Homo sapiens: one gene and its partners. The protein of the gene in region 3 interacts with the protein of the main gene of each other region in a pairwise test. Each region holds a gene or a part of one and is shown on either strand. Other genes may lie near its edges.

What was found.
Region 1: the proteins of CAPN3 (region 3) and TFCP2 interact in binary tests that used the Homo sapiens proteins (3 or more experiments, as listed by UniProt).
Region 2: the proteins of CAPN3 (region 3) and AMOT interact in a two-hybrid assay, tested with the Homo sapiens proteins (one large-scale study listed by BioGRID and IntAct).
Region 4: the proteins of CAPN3 (region 3) and GTPBP3 interact in binary tests that used the Homo sapiens proteins (3 or more experiments, as listed by UniProt).

What each region holds. Positions count from the first base shown.
Region 1 is NC_000012.12:51,096,646-51,100,749, reverse strand, and holds part of TFCP2 (alpha-globin transcription factor CP2), read left to right. Parts: intron 1-970; coding exon 971-1,095; intron 1,096-1,831; coding exon 1,832-1,974; intron 1,975-4,104.
Region 2 is NC_000023.11:112,813,332-112,817,445, forward strand, and holds part of AMOT (angiomotin), read right to left. Parts: intron 2,547-4,114; coding exon 2,027-2,546; intron 1-2,026.
Region 3 is NC_000015.10:42,400,068-42,404,636, reverse strand, and holds part of CAPN3 (calpain-3), read right to left. Parts: intron 2,997-4,569; coding exon 2,827-2,996; intron 2,514-2,826; coding exon 2,502-2,513; intron 2,271-2,501; exon of another isoform or gene 2,079-2,270; intron 1,844-2,078; coding exon 1,635-1,843; intron 897-1,634; coding exon 860-896; intron 1-859. UniProt on the Homo sapiens protein: Calcium-regulated non-lysosomal thiol-protease. Proteolytically cleaves CTBP1 at 'His-409'. Mediates, with UTP25, the proteasome-independent degradation of p53/TP53.
Region 4 is NC_000019.10:17,339,939-17,343,231, reverse strand, and holds the end of GTPBP3 (5-taurinomethyluridine-[tRNA] synthase subunit GTPB3, mitochondrial), read right to left. Parts: intron 2,189-3,293; coding exon 1,910-2,188; intron 1,755-1,909; coding exon 1,529-1,754; 3' UTR 501-1,528; downstream 1-500. UniProt on the Homo sapiens protein: GTPase component of the GTPBP3-MTO1 complex that catalyzes the 5-taurinomethyluridine (taum(5)U) modification at the 34th wobble position (U34) of mitochondrial tRNAs (mt-tRNAs), which plays a role in mt-tRNA decoding and mitochondrial translation.

The DNA of each region.
Region 1 (4,104 bases), on a different chromosome or scaffold from region 3:
CTCGATTTCCTGGGCTCAAGCCATCCTCCTGCCTAGATCCCTGAGCAGCTGGGACTACAGGCACGCACCACCACGCCCGCCTAATTTTGTACTTTTTGTAGAGGCGGGGTTTTGCCGTGTTCCCCTGGCTGGTCTCAAACTCCTGAGCTCAAGCAATCCTTCTGACTCGCCTTCCTAAAGTGCTGGGATTACAGATGTGAGCCACCGTGCCTGGTCATATTTGTTTTTGTCTACATCATAAGGGATGTTGAATCTTGGAAAATTTTAAGGAAGGAAGTGAAATCAGGGGTTGATGACTTGTGGAAAAATAATTGATCTTTCATTTTTTCAAGCATATTATCTAAAGGGTGTTTAGAAATTGGAAGGAGTAAGATGATCAGATCAAGAGGTAGTTGAATACCTTTCTCTAAGAAGAACAGAGAAAGGACTTAGGCTAGTTAGGAGAAGGTAATGAGAGAAATAAGATGATCTAGTTTACTGTGTTGGCATTTTTTAGTAAAAAGTATATCTTGAACCTGACCCATTAGACGGTGGCTTTTATATTTTGACTATTTCTAACTTTTACACCAAAGGCCACAAACTCAAATGACTATAGAGTACATACAGGTAATGTAAGTGAATGGCAGTCAAGACTGGGGTATAGTGAAGAATATATGCATCATGTAAGAAGAACGGCTGATTGTTTTCATGTGAGAATGCAGGCCTAAGATTGCTAGATCTGAGTCTTCAGGAAAAGCCAAAAGTTCAGAGGTTTATATGATGTCTCATATTGGAACTAATTCCACTTAAGGAAAAAAAAAACCCTACTACTGGGGAACTAATAAAACATAGCAAATTAATTGCATTTGGCCAATGAGCTTCCAATTTTCATCTGCTCTATACGATTAATGTAGAAACACAATTTCTCCCTTCTTTTTATTGTGCTTACCATAAAGAATGTAAGACTAATTAGCCTTTTTCCTCCCCTTAGGATGGTGCGTCCAAGGTTAACCATTTATGTTTGTCAGGAATCACTGCAGTTGAGGGAGCAGCAACAACAGCAGCAGCAACAGCAGCAGAAGCATGAGGATGGAGACTCAAATGGTACTTTCTTCGGTAGGTTGTTCTGGACACACTAGGACAGATATGAAGAAAGGTGAAGAGATAACTTATGGGCATGTGTGATGGGAAACTATCAAACAGCAGATTTAGTATTTGCTAGAAGTAACAATAATCACTAGCATTTATTAAGTTCCTAATACATGGCAGGTGCCATTCTTTTTTTTTTTTTTTGAGACAGAGTCTCACTCAGTTACCCAGGCTGAAGTACAGTGGCACAATCATGACTCATTGCAGCCTTGACCACCTGGGCTCAAGTGATTCTCTCCCCTCAGCCTACCGAGTAGCTAGAACTAAAGCTACTCATTTGCCTAATTGTTTTATTTATTGTAGAGATGGGATCTCCCTATGTTGCCCAGGCTGGTCTTGAACTCCTGGGCTCAAGCGATCTCCCTGCCTCAGCCTCCCAAATTGCTGGGACTATAGGTGTAAACCACTACACCCAGCCAGGTACTATTCTTAACACTTTTTATATGCTTTAATATTTACAACTAATATCTCCTCTTTGCGGAGGATTTTACTGTTATCTCCGGTATTTATGCAAGAAAAATCAGGCCTAGGAATGTTAAATAACTTGCCCTAGGTCACACAGCTGCAAGTGGTTGAGCCAGGATTTGAACTTAGGCAGTGTGATTTCTGAGTCCTTCAGAAAAGTGGGCATTCCTAGTGATCAAGTTACCTGTAAGAGTGGACAAACTTTGTACTGACTGCTGTTGCTCTCTCCCTTTTGCAGTTTACCATGCTATCTATCTAGAAGAACTAACAGCTGTTGAATTGACAGAAAAAATTGCTCAGCTTTTCAGCATTTCCCCTTGCCAGATCAGCCAGATTTACAAGCAGGGGCCAACAGGAATTCATGTGCTCATCAGTGATGAGGTAGATTTTTCAGTACAGTTGAATTACCAGATGATGATTAATTTGTCAGCGCATGGAGCAAGAGCAGTTCTCCTGGGGCAGAGTGTTCTGTTTTCTAGATCAGAGGGTTTCATACTTTTTTGCTTGCTTTCCTCCTAATTTTTTTTTTTTTTGAAACAGTCTCTCTCTGTTGCCCAGGCCGGAGTGCAGTGGCCCAATCTCAGGTCACTGCGACCTCCTCCTCCTGGATTCAAGTGATTCTCCTGTCTCAGCTTCCCGAATAGTGGGAATTACAGGCGTGCGCCACCACGCCTGGCTAATTTTTGTATTTTTAGTAGAGATGGGGTTTTGCCATGTTGGCCAGGTTGGTCTCAAACTCCTGGCCTCAAGTGATCCACCCGCCTCGGCCTCCCAAAGTGGTGGGATTCCAGATGTGAGCCACTGCGCCTGGTCCTAAAATATTTTAAAAACCACATATTCCCATGCACATTTTTAGGTTGACTTAAAATTTTTTGTTAAAGTTTAAATAGTTGTAAAAGATGTCATTTCTGGGCATATATAATGACATTTTTAAGTGAAATGGTTACATCATTATTCTAATTGCATCCCATGTAACCTTAATACAAAAATGATTTAATACCACCACCATCCATTAAAAAAAAATACATGATTGTGCTTTTCTTTAACAGTTAGAATTCTTATACTATTCCTCTGTTTCCTTGAACTCTTATTTTCATTTACTTCCCCCGGTGAATTTTATCTTACTGTAACTTTTTTTTTTTGAGACAGAGTCTCACTCTGTCGCCCAGGCTGTTGTGCGGTGGTGTGATCTCGGCTCACTGCAACCCCGCCTCCTAGGTTCAAGCAATTCTCCTGCCTCAGCCTCCCAAGTAGCTGGTATTACAGGCACCCACCACCATGCCTGGCTAATTTTTGTATTTTTAGTAGAGGCTGGGTTTCACCATGTGGCCAGTCTGGTCTCGAACTCCTGGCCTCAAGTGATCAACCCGCCTCAGCCTCCCGAAGTGCTGGGATTACAGATGTGAACCACCACGCCTGGCCATCTTACCATAACATATTTTTATGCACAAACATCTTTTATTGATTATCCTACTATATTTGTTTGAAATAAAGTTTTTAAATAAAAATTTAAAAATTATTATAATGGAATTATCATAATTATACAATTGATTAAAATAATGTAAATATGCTACATGTTTTAATAAGTAATTATTAAAGATTAAGAAGGCTGCCCAGGCGCAATGGCTCATGCCTGTAAACCCAGCACTTTGGGAGGCTGAGACGGGTGGATCACAAGGTCAGAAGTTCAAGACCATCGTGTCCAAGATGGTGAAACCCCATCTCTACTAAAAATACAAAAATTAGCTGGGCATGATGGCAGGTGCCTATAATCCCAGCTACTTGGGAGGCTGAGGCAGAGAACTGCTTGAACCCGAGAGGCAGAGGTTGCGGTGAGCCAAGATTGCGCCACCGCACTCCAGCCTAGGCGACAGAGCGAGACTTCATCCAAAAAAAGAAAAAAAGAAGGCCAGGCACAGTGGCTCACACCTGTAATCCCAGCACTTTGGGAGGCCGAGGCAAGCAGATCACCTGAGGTCAGGAGTTTGACCAACATAGAGAAACCCTGTCTCTACTAAAATACAAAATTAGCCGGGTGTGGTGGCACGTGCCTATAATCCCACCTACTCAGGAGGCTGAGGCAGGAGAATCCCTTGAACCCAGGAGGCGGAGGTTGCGTGAGCCGAGATGGGGGCATTGCGCTCCAGCCTGGGCAACAAGAGCAAAACTCTGTCTCAGAAAAAAAAAAAAAAATTAAGAAAAAATTATTACAGGTATATCTATGAATGAGTTCGATGAAATTGTTTCGTTCCCTACCTGTACCCTTGCACATAATTATTTCCTTTGTAGCTGAATACTGCCTATTGATTGCTAGAATGACACAGGATTTCAGCATCAATTCCATTCTGTTTTTTTCCTCTAGATATAAATGCTGAGGGACTTGATTCCCATAAATTGATAGGAATGGATGGAATTTTGTAATGACAATGTCATTAGATTATACTTCAGAATTATATACCAGAAATTACATAGTGATATTACCAAAAAATCATTTTGAATCCTCTGTCTTAC
Region 2 (4,114 bases), on a different chromosome or scaffold from region 3:
GCAGAGAGGAGGGTGGCAGTGGGTTTTCCAGACTTACTCTGTCTACTTATTCCCCTCATGAGCCTCAGGCCTTTTCATTTCCTCCAGCACTACCTGGGATCTACCTTAATTTTCCCCACTTTCCTTTTCCTCTCCTGGTCCACCTTCCCCTCTACTCTACCTCGACACTGGGTCAGCCTCTACTTTCCCAACATTCAAGCTGTTCCAGTTACACTTATTTGAGGCATCTTTTCCCATCTTGGGGAACAAACAACAGCAATCCTATTCTCTGTCCCTCTTCCCTGTCACTGGCTGAACCCACTCCCACACACACAAAAAATCACCATGGATCCTCTGGCAAAAAGGGCCCGTATTAGAGCTGGGTTCATCCTTCAGTGATTGTATCAAAGATGGGCTGGGATCACCATGAAGAGAGAGTTTGGAGAGGGGGTGTCAACTGTTAGCCTAATCAGCCAGACTGGGTTTCTAGTGTATGGATATAATTAATTTATTTCACCAAAGCGATGGGGATAGGGATATAGTTAAAATTTGCGGGTGAAAATACAAAATCAGGGAAAAGCCGGGAAGAAACAATTCTCAGAGCACTCCAACAACCCTCATCCAGATTTAGGAAAACTAAGGGACAGGGAAGCCATTTTCCTATATAAAAATCCTCTGTTTGCCAGGCGCAGTGGCTCACGCCTATAATCCCAGCACTTTGGGAGACCAAGGCGGGCGGATCACCTGAGGTCGGGAGTTCGAGACCAGCCTGGCCAACATGGAGAAACCCCGTCTCTACTAAAAATACAAAATTAGCCAGGCGTGGTGACACATGCCTGTAATCCCAGCTACTCAGGAGGCTGAGGCAGGAGAACTGCTTGAACCCAGGAGGCGGAAGTTGCAGTGAGTGGAGATCGTGCCATTGCACTGCAGGCTAGGTAACAAGAGCGAGACTCCGTCTCAAAAAAAAAAAAAAAGAAAGAAAGAAAAAAAATCATCTGCTGATAATAAGCCCCTGTCTCCTTGAGGCCCCCAGATTTGGTGTCTGTTTACAAATACTCAGCTTCATTCAGGCCTCTGAAATTTTCACTCCTGGTGTTTCCTAAGGACAGAGTTGCTGGACAATACAAGGCATCCTCCTGTCCCTCCCCCACCTTCACCCTCACCTCTCTGAACAGTTCACATTGTAGGGAGACCAAACCACAATAGCTCCACAATGACAAAAGCTGCAAAGAAGCGGCCAAAGGCATAACCCTATTCACCAGCAGCCCCTGGAAGCCAAGAGCTAAGGTTCCTCGCTTGGGGTACTCCAGAGGTAAAGTCCCAATGGGGGTGGGCAGAGAAGAATGTGAACTGGAGATACACTCCTTTTTCTATTTCCTCAGCCTAGGGCTGTCACCTGTCACCCAGCTGTGGTGTTAAGCCCCTCCTGCCCCCCACATACAACAGAGAAAGAGAGCAGATGTTGAATTTGAGCTGCAGGGAGGGACCAAATCAAAGGGTGGGGTGGAGGGATTGTTGAAAGAGAGTTACTATGAGAACTCCCACTAGGAAAAAGTATTCTGAGCCTTTTCCAGAACAAGGCAGGACTGCTCAAACTTTAGCTGGTGAGATTTTTCTAGGAACTACATTTATTTTTATATTTAAGATTCAAATTCATATTTGGGAAAATGTGACCAAGACAATGAGCCTTAAGGTGCCGTCAGATCCTTTACCTATAAAGGCATCACCAGTATTCTTATCAAGAAGTATCACTGCCTTTTGGAATTCTAAAAGAATTAATCACGTTTTCTTTAGGGCTATAGCGTCTGGAAAAACTGCATAAATTTTTTTCTCCTTGTGTAAATGTAAGACGTTACTTCTCCTAGGTAGACAGGTAGAAGGCTTTTTCCAAAGTTTGACTCATATCTAACCTTCAGATATAAAAATCCTGAAGACCTGCCACAAGTAATGCTGGGATTCACAACTGGAGACTTTAATGTGGATATTAAACAAGTCTCACAAATAAAGACTTAGAGACCCTAATATCCCAAAACGGAAGCCTCACCTTCTGCAGTCTTGCCACCTTCTCATAGCATCCTTCCAACTCTTGCCTCAAGTTCCGGTTCTCGTCTGAGAGGATCTCAACCATCTGCTGGGCTCTGGAAACAATGGCAAAAGGGTCTGCTGGCACTGGCTGATAAGAAGCAGAGGATGGCTGAGCCCGAGGCATAGCTGAATAGGCTTCTCCTGGCTGCTGCTGTGGCTGCTGCTGCTGCTGTTGTTGGTGGTGATGGTGATGATGGTGCTGCTGCTGCTGTTGCTGCTGCTGCTGACTCAGGCCAGGTTGGGAGAGACGGTAATGATCCCCCTGGTGAGCCTGATTAGGAAGGAAATGCTGCTGCGGCCTAGGCAGGTGAGCTGAATGGTCTCCCTGGTTTGGGACCAAGGGGTGTCGGGCAGGAGACAATCTAGTGGATGGTGGAGATTGTAGCAAGGGCAAGGACCCCCCAGAGGTCAGAGAAGAAGTAGGGCTGTGAGGCTGCGAGTTCCTGGCTGACAATGGCAATGAGATGTCCTGCGCTGGCCTGTAAAACATGAAGGGCAGGTGCGGGTTAATTTCTCTCCTAAGGCACTGGGGGAGAAGGGCACACAAAAGTGAGATGAGGAGGCTTCTGATGCCCCCAGGACACCTGCAAAATGAAGAGCAGGCAGGGTCTGACTATGGGGAAGTCTAACCCTGCCTGCTCTATCTCTGCAAAGACCACAGCCCTTTTCCAGCCTGACCTTCTGTGCCTCTGCCTGACAAACAGAGGTGTGATCCCATGAGGGTCAGAACCAGACAACTTCCATGGTCACTTTGTGAAAATCGTAGTGATACACACCTGTACACCCGTTTGCTCAAGTCTAAACATTTCAAACGATTCTTCTACAAGGTAATTTTCATCTCATTATTTTAAATTAAACCTTTTCTGACATTATACACGTGGTCCAGCACACATAAAGATCCTAGTTTAGAAACTATGTTCCATTTGCCAGGATGGAAACAACAAACAGCCATAAAAACCACCCCCATCTTGCTATCTGCAACTCCCTTTAGTAATTCATACATTCACAAAAAAAAAGAAAAAAAACTATTCAAGGATTGGTAGATACTTATATTAGAGACACTAAATGATTATTGTTGCTTCCAGTTGTTAACGATTTAATGATTCCCATTAGCAGTAACCATAAAAAGACTTGAAGAGGGTTACAAGCAATGCTAACATACTATTTTTGATGTAATGAATCGCAAAATGTAAGAACTGGAAAGGCCTTAAAAGAAAATTATTTAGTTCAACTCTATCACTGGACAGATGGGGAATGAGGTCCAGAAAGGGGAAGTCATCTGCCAAATATTAGAGTGGTGGTGCCAAGATAGAATCCTTCTTTCCCAATTCCCATTTTCTGGCTTTTTCTACTGCCATAATGCATTGATTTCTGTGCACTGATACTTAGATTTCCAACCTATTGCTCATAGAAAGTTCCAGAAAGAGACCTTTGGTACATTGTTTAATGTGGCTCTCCCATTTTTGTACCTAATTACCAGGTACAAAATGCTAACACCTAAGTATAAATAATTCATACCTAATGACTATTAGCCATTAAGGGAAACAATTAGTATGTGGATGGATCACTTCCACCATCACCACTACCAGGAATAGTATCTGTCAGTGTGCACTGAAGACAAAAAGCTTGTTCATGCCCTAGCTCATGCCCAATTAACCTCATATGCTCCCATGTCCTGTGGACACTTGTTCTACAGTTGATATTTCTCAATCCAGGGAAGACAGATGGCTAAGTGCATGGGATCTGGATCCCAACAGAGGGAGTCTGGAGACCTCTTCTACTGCTCACGAGCTGTGTAACTTGGTGCAAGTTACTTAATCTGCATGAGCCCATTTTATTCTTGAGGTCACAAATAAATTGCAAAAATACTGGGGTCTTCTCATTTTTGGCGGAATAGGAATTACAGTCACTTCTCTACCTCCCAGTGAGATAAGCTGACCTTGTTAGCTTGTTACTTAAAGGATATCCATTTAATCTTTGCAATAAATTGCATAAAATTCATGGTGGAACTGGGACAAATCACCAGGAGCAATTAACTTTTAACTGG
Region 3 (4,569 bases):
GAGCCCAACACACAGCACTCTGTGCTTCGGACTTTGGGCTTCTCACTGCCTGGGGCTGGCCTCAGCGTGGAGGTGCGGAAAAACCTAAGTCTGGAGTCAGAGAGTCTGAATGTGAGTTCCAACCCTGCCACTTACTGAGCTCTGTGAACTCAGAGAAGTCATTCAACCCCATTGAGCCTCTGCTTCCTTTCTTGAACACCAGGGATTATAACCCCATCTACCTCTCAGCAACCTTGCAAGTATCGCGATGACACATGTGAAAAGTACCTTGTAAGGTGTAAAGTGTGAAAAAGCACCTCTGTTTGAGTGCCCATGCTGTGCCAGACACTTCACATACATCACCTCATTGATGAAGCCTCACAAAAGCCTTGCAAGGCACATTATCATCCCCGTTTTACTGAGTAGGAAACTGAGTGAGAGGGATTACAGAAATTGTCCAGGTCACCCCGCTGGTAAGTGGAGGATCCAAGTGTCAACACCAGGTCCGGCACCAGCTTACTTTCTTTTCTCTATGTGTGAAATCCAATGTTATCCAGTCTCAGAATCCAGTGTTCGCTGCGGCTCTTGTCATCCCTTCCTGTGGCCTTGTTCCCTCCGATTGTTCAAATTGCTTCTCCTTTCCAGGACCCTCTTCCATATTTCCCAGCCCCTGAACTGCCTCAATGGCCCCCGGTGCTTAAGGCCGATTACTTCTGGCCATGCCAAAGTAGGATTTGCAGTGCCAAGGAGGGACTGCTCAGCACAGCCCAGACTCCCATTCCCTCTGCCAGTGCCCATTCTCCCCTGCACCATCTGTCCCCTGCATGGTCAGGGAAGGGGACCCTCTGGACTTTTCGCACAGAAGATCTAAACCACTCACCACTGGCCGATCCACGGAGATGGTATTTTCAACTTCCCTGTGAGGAATACAGACATGTGGGGTCTCAGTGTCACCAGAAGCAAGCAGGAGGCCCGTGGACGGTTTGCTCTGGTGCACGGCTTCCTGGCAGCCAAGCCAGAACCAGCCTCTAGAGAACCCCTGGAACACCCCAACCCCAGGAACCAGCCCCATGTCAGCACCATCCCCGACAGCCAAGCCCAGGCACGCAGGTTCTTGTTAGTATTGCTCAGAGCCCCCCAAAGGCATGACCCAGCCACCTACCCATGGACCTGGTGCATCTTCCAAGGACAGAGATCAGAGTGGCAGGGGCTATGAGCTCATCTGTGGTGGCCAGGGACAGGATGTGGCTTTCCTGGCCATGCTAACCTAAAATTTCAAGCATCCCCAACACCTCCTATCCCTCTTCCCTACTTTATTTTTGCTCCATATCACCTCTCCAAATCTAACATGCTACATATGTTTTTCCTATCCATTATTGTCTCATGTTAGAATATTAAGCTCCATGAAGGCAGGGATTTCTTTCTGTTTACTTCACTACTCTATCCTTAGTGCCTAGGACAGTGCCTGGAACATAGTAGGTGCTCAATAAATATCACAGAATGGATGAATGAATGAATGGGGGTAATGTGGCCAGTGGCTCAGGAGCAGCAGAAGGACCCTGGAGGAGACGTGTCTAGCTGCCTCATGCCTTCAACCTCTGGAGTGGGCCATGTGAGCTTTTAGAAACACGTGGGAAAGCTGGGCCAGCACTCACTCAGAGAGGTTCCTCTTTTCAGAGAAGACCCGGAGGATGAATTCCCCCTCCTGGTGGGGCTCGTAGGTGGAGGGCACGATGACGTACTCGCTGGGAGGCAGGCGGAAGCGCTGGGACACCTCCCGCATGTTGATGTAGGTTTTGCTCCTGGCCTTGGAGGCGTTGTACAGGAAGAAGTCCTTCTGCAGGTGCTGCTTGTTCCCGTGCATCTGAGAGATGGGGAGAGCCCAGGGCACATGAGCCCCTCGGGAGGAACATCCTGTCCTGCCACAGCCACCTCCAAGGGTCCCTTCCCAACTCCCTGGTCACCCATGTCACAGTTTCAACCTCCCTACTTCCGACTCCCAAGGCTTAAATAGCCTCCCTACCTCACTTCCTCTTCCTTTTCTGTTGTGATTCAGAGTGAATGGCAAATGTGTCATCCCCACACTCAGGGACACTTACCAGAACAGCTGCTCCTCAGCTCCGAAGCCCCTCAGGCTGGAAGGACCCCCAAGGAGGCCTAGAGGACTTGGCTGGGTTCTGAGGGAAGTGATTCCTCCATCCCAAGCGGGCAGCCACCCTCAGAACGCGTCTGTGTGACTGTGTGTGTGGCTGTAAGCGTGGAGGAGGGTGAGTGTGCAAAGGCATGTGTGTGACGTGCAGTGTCTGGTGCGAGGGAGAAAGTGCACATCCTGGGGGTGGTAGTCATGGGTCATGCAATGCCCTGAGGCACCTGCTCTGCAGTGGAAATAACACAGGCAAGGCCCTCTCCTATCACAGTCCTGCCCACAAACCCCACCAGGAAGCTTCTCGACGAGCCACAGACAGACTCGGGGCCCCCTGGGTAGTGCTGCACACAACTGCTGGCCGCTGCTGCTGCTATACCTCTTTGGGAACCTTGAGAAGAAACAGAAAGGAAGATGCTTCAGATGTGAATGAGGATGAGGAGCCTGCGGAAGGCAATGCCAGCAACTGCAGCCCGCATGCGGAAGCCTGACCCCCAGGCACCTGTTCTGCCAGGCCCGCTCCACTGCCTCTCTAATGCCCCCCCTGGTATTTTTTGCTTGTTACAAACACAAGTGGTCCTGATACCAGGAGCTCTGTGGGTCACTGGGTATTGAGGAAGCCAGAGGGCCCCTCTAGAAGCCCCTGGAAGCGTCCTCCCTGGGAAAGTATGTTTCCTGGGCTGGAGCCAATCAGGACTGCACACCTCGTAGATGGCGAAGCCAATGGTGAAGAGACTGGCCCCTAGCTTCCGGTCCTTCCGCCGGTTCTTCTGCATCAGGGCCACCAGGAAGCTGCAAATCACCTCCGAGTCATCAGGGTCATCGTCCTCCTCCAGGAGCTTCAGACGGTACTGAGGGTTGGTCCAGAAAGTATCTGCACCCCCAGAAAGGAAGCACGCATTCACAGCTGCCTCTCAGAGGGCAGGAAGGGGATGAGACAGAGGGAGCCATTTATTTCTATTCCCTACATCTAGGTGCTTAGGAAATATCAACAGAAAACACGATTCAGGCATTTCTCTAATGATTTGGGGGGGGGGGGGGCGCTACCTTTATTCAGATGGAGCTGTACTGATTGTATGTGTGGCTTTTCCTTCCTCTCTGGGCTTTCATTCTCAGTCTTTGCTGATGGTTTTGTTTTCCTTACCTGCCCCTTAAACGCTGTTGGTGACTAGAATCTGGTCCTGGGCCTCTTCTCCTCTCACCTCACCCTTCCTGCCTCCCTAGGCAATCTTTCTTACTTCTGCTTTTTAACTGCCCCCTACACGCGCATGATGCCTGAGCCATATATCCCAGCCTCAATCTCTCTCACTTTTTTTTTTTTGAGACGGAGTCTGGCTCTGTTGCCCAGGCTAGAGTGCAGTGGCGCGATCTCGGCTCACTGCAGCCTCCGCCTCCTGGGTTCAAGCGATTCTTCTGACTGAGCCTCCCAAGTAGCTGGGATTACAGGCACCCACCATCATCCCCGGTTAATTTTTGTATCTTTAGTAGAGATGGGTTTTCACCATGTTAGCCAAGCTGGTCTCGAACTCCTGACCACAAGTGATCCGCCTGCCTCAGCCTCCCAAAGTGCTGGGATTACAGGCATAAGCCACCACGTCTGGCCTCTTCTTTCCTTTATTCCTCAAATATTTTTTGAGTTCTTATCATATCACCAAGTGCCATCTAATATGCGCATCCGATGCTCTATTACAAATCTTCACTGGGACACTCTACAGGAACCTCAAACTTTCCATGTCCCAAGCTAAATTCCTTTCCCTAGAACCCCACAATTAACTCCACCAAAAACAAACAACACGCTGATATTTTTCTCTTGTGTGTCTTTTTTTTTTGAGGCAGGGTCTCACTCTGTCACCCAGGCAGGAGTGCAGTGGCATGATCACAGTTTATTGTAGCCTCAACCTCCCGAGCTCAAGCAATCCTCCCACCTCATTTTTTTTTTTATTTTTTGTAACGATGAGGTGTCACTATGTTGCCTGTGCTGGTCTTGAACTCCTGGGCTCAAGTGATCCTCCTGGCTCTGCCTCCCAAAGTGCTGGGATTATAGGCATGAGCCACCCACCCGATCTTCTTGTGTGTCTTATGTTGCAATGTTGTCAGGTCCCCAACTGGGAATCTTGACATCATTCTTCTTCCTTCCCTACATCACCCAATATGCTCTCCCTAAATCTGCTGTCTCCCCTCCATCTCTGCTGCTACTGACTTGGTCTAGGTTTTCATCATCTCTGACTTGAACTATTGCAGCAGCTGCTAACTTGGTTCTCCAATAGTGCCCTTACTGTTACTGACACAGTACTCACAGTCCCTGACTTAGGATGGTTCGGCTACAATTTTTTAACTTTACAATGTGAAAGAGATGCACATTCAGTAGAAACTGGATTTCGAGTACCCGTACAACCATTCTGTTTTTCACTTTTAGTACAGTATTAAGTAAGTTACATGAGATATTC
Region 4 (3,293 bases), on a different chromosome or scaffold from region 3:
ACCCATCTCTACTAAAAATACAAAAGTTAGCCAGGTGTGGTAGGGTACACCTATGATCCCAGCTGCTCGGGAGGCTGAGGCACGAGAATGGCTTGAGCTCAGGAGGCAGAGGCTGCAGTGAGCTGAGATCACACCACTGCACTTCAGTCTGGGCAACAGAGCAAGACTCTGTCACACACACACACACACACACACACACACACACACACACACACACACTTTGGGAGGCCACAGGTGGGCAGATCACAAGGTCAGGAGATCAAGACCAGCCTGGCTAACACAGTGAAACCCCATCAAAAAAAAAAAAAAAAAAAAAGAAGACTAAAGACTAAAAAAGGAATGAGGCCAGGCACCGTGGCTCACACCTGTAATCCCAGCACTTTGGGAGGCCAAGACAGCAGGATGGCTTGAGTCCAAGAGCTCAAGACCAGCCTGGGCAACATAGTGAGACCCCCCATCTCCATAATTCTGTTTTTTTTTTAAAAAGAAATGACAATTTGTAGAGCAATGAACACAATACCATTTATATATGATACACAAGACAAACATATTTGAAAGGTACATCCACAAGTATGCAAACATTCAAAGTTCTGGAAAGACACACATTAAGCCATGACAACCACAGAAGGGCTAAGGAAAATTTCCATGTTGAAACACTTCTGGGGCCAGGTGTGATAGCTCACGCCTGTGATCCCAGCACTTTGGGAGGCCAAGGTAGGCAGATTACCTGAGGTCAAGGAGTTCAAGACCAGCCTGGTCAACATGGTGAAACCTTGTCTCTACTAAAAATACAAAAATTAGCCTGGCGTGGTGGTGTGCGCCTGTAGTCCCAGCTACTCAAGAGGCTGAGGCAGGAGAATCACTTGAACCCGGGAGGTGGAGGTTGCAGTAAGCCGAGGTCGCACCACTGAACTCCAGCCTGGGTGACAGAGCGAGACTCTGTCTCAAAAAAAGAAAAAAATTAGCCGGGCATGCTGGCACATGCCTGTAATCCCAGCTACTCAGGAGGCTGAGGCAGGAGAAGCGCTTGAGCCCCGGAGATGGAGGTTGCAGTGAGCCAAGGTCGCACCACTGCACTCCAGCCTGGGCAATAGACAGAGGAGGGAAGGGTAGGGGAAGGGGAAGGGGAAGGGGAAGGGGAAAGGGAAAGGGAAAAGGAAAGGGAAGGGAAGGGAAGGGAAGAAAATAAACACTTCTAGATCACCTGAGTTTTTTTTACATTCCTTTGGTATTTGCAAAATAAATAAAAAACTACGAAACAAATATACTGAGATCCTCCTATCTCCATCCCAACCCGGATGCCCCAGCATCAAGGGTCGAACGGGACCTCCATTCAGCCCCATTCCAGGGCCTGAATCTCCAGGGAGTCCCTGCAGGGATCTCACTACCTCTCAGCTGTGTTGCTTCACTATTTGAGAATCAAGTTCTTTCCCAGGCGAATGAGAATCCCAATTGGCCTAAACTGTTTCCAGATCCCCCGAGGCTCCTGGGTCTCCACGCAGCTTGGGTGCGACTTCCCTGGATCCCGTCACTTGCCCACACAGAAGTCCTGGAAGATGATGTCCAGGATCTCCTCGGTACCCCCTCCACCTGTGAGCCGGGTCAGGTGACCCCGGGCCACCCGCAGCGCCTCTGCCGCCAGGGCCAGGTCTTTTGACTGCTTGTAGTGGCCGAGGGCATCCAGGCAACCCTGGAGGTGGTGCTGGTGCCTTGCTCGGGTCAGCAGCGGGGGATCTGTGGACGGGTCCCCACACCTGGAAGAGACAAGAGACATGGTCTCTCCCGACCTTTTACAACCATCCCTTGAAGGGGAAATGGTTGTACCCATTTTGTAGGTTCAGAAATTGAAGTTGAGGGACCCACACTTAAACTGTGGGTCAGGGGAGGCTGGGAGTGGGAGGGGGCTCACACTGCAGCTAGCTCCTTCCTCAGCGCCTCCAGGAGGCCGTCCAGCCCCTCTCCCGTCAGACAGGACAGCAGCAGGTGCGGGGGCAGGTCAGGACCGGGACCTGGGCCCTCCGGGGACAGCAGGTCCGACTTGTTCAGCACCAGGAGGAGGCGCTGGCTGCTGTCACTGGGGCTCTGGGCTCCCACAGAGGCTACGACGGTGGCCAGGAAGTTGCAACTGGAGGGAGAGGCCAGGTCAGAAGCATCCAGCATGGCCAGAATGAGGTCAGCCTGCTCTAGCCTGCGGGAGCAAGGTCAACTGAGCGGGGATCCCAGGTTGAGCAATTGAAGGCACTGGGTGGAGGGACAGTTAGAGGGGCCAGGCAGAGCACTGGGGGAGCTGCGAAGCGTGAGGTCGGGAGGGAGGAGTAGAGTACCAGGGGACCGGCAGAATGTTGGGGGCCCAAGCCGAGCACAGGGGGTGGGGCAGAGCAAGAGGGGCGGGGCACAGTGCAGGGGGAAGGGCAGAGCAAGAGGAGCGGTCACGGTGCGGGAGCGGGGCAGAGCAGGAGGGGCTGGGCACAGTGCAGTGAGTAGGGCAGGGCAGGAGGGGCGGGGCACAGCACAGGAGGGCGGGGCAGAGCAAGAGGGGCAGAGCACTGTGCAGGGGGAAGAGCAGAGCAAGAGGGACAGGGCACAGCACAGGGGCTGGGACAGAGCAAAAGGGGCCGGGTACAGCACTGGAGTGGGGCGACCATGAGTGGCGGGGCAGAGCAAGAAGGACCAGACACACCACAGGGTAAGGGGTAGAGAGCACCAGGGGTGGGGCAGAATGTAGGGGGTGGACAGAGCACAGGGGATGGGATAGACCGCAAGGGGCAGAGCGGAGTGCCAGGGCGGGACAGAGCACGAGAGGGCGGGGCAGAACGTGAGGGCTGGGCGGAGGGCTTAGGGATGAGAAACATGTCCGGAGGGCCGGGGGCAGGACTTAATCAGAACTAAATCACTGGCCGGGCACAGTGGCTAACGCCTGTAATCCCAGCACTTTGGGAGGCCGAGGCAGGCGGGTCACCTGAGATCAGGAGTTCGAGACCAGCCTGGCCAACATGGTGAAACCCCCATCTCTACTAAAAATACAAAAAATTAGCCTGGCATTGTGGTGGGCGCCTCTAATCCCAGCTACTCGGGAGGCCCAGGCAGAAGAATCACTTGAACCCGAGAGGCGGAGGTTGCAGTGAGCCGAGATTGTACCACTGCACACTCCAGCCTGGGCAACAAGAGCGAAACTCCGTCTCAAAAACAAAAACAAAACACCAGGCCAGGTGCGGTGGGCTCACAACACTTTGGGAGGCCGAGGCTCAGGAGTTAGAGACCAACCTGGCCAACATAGTGAAACCTCATCTCTA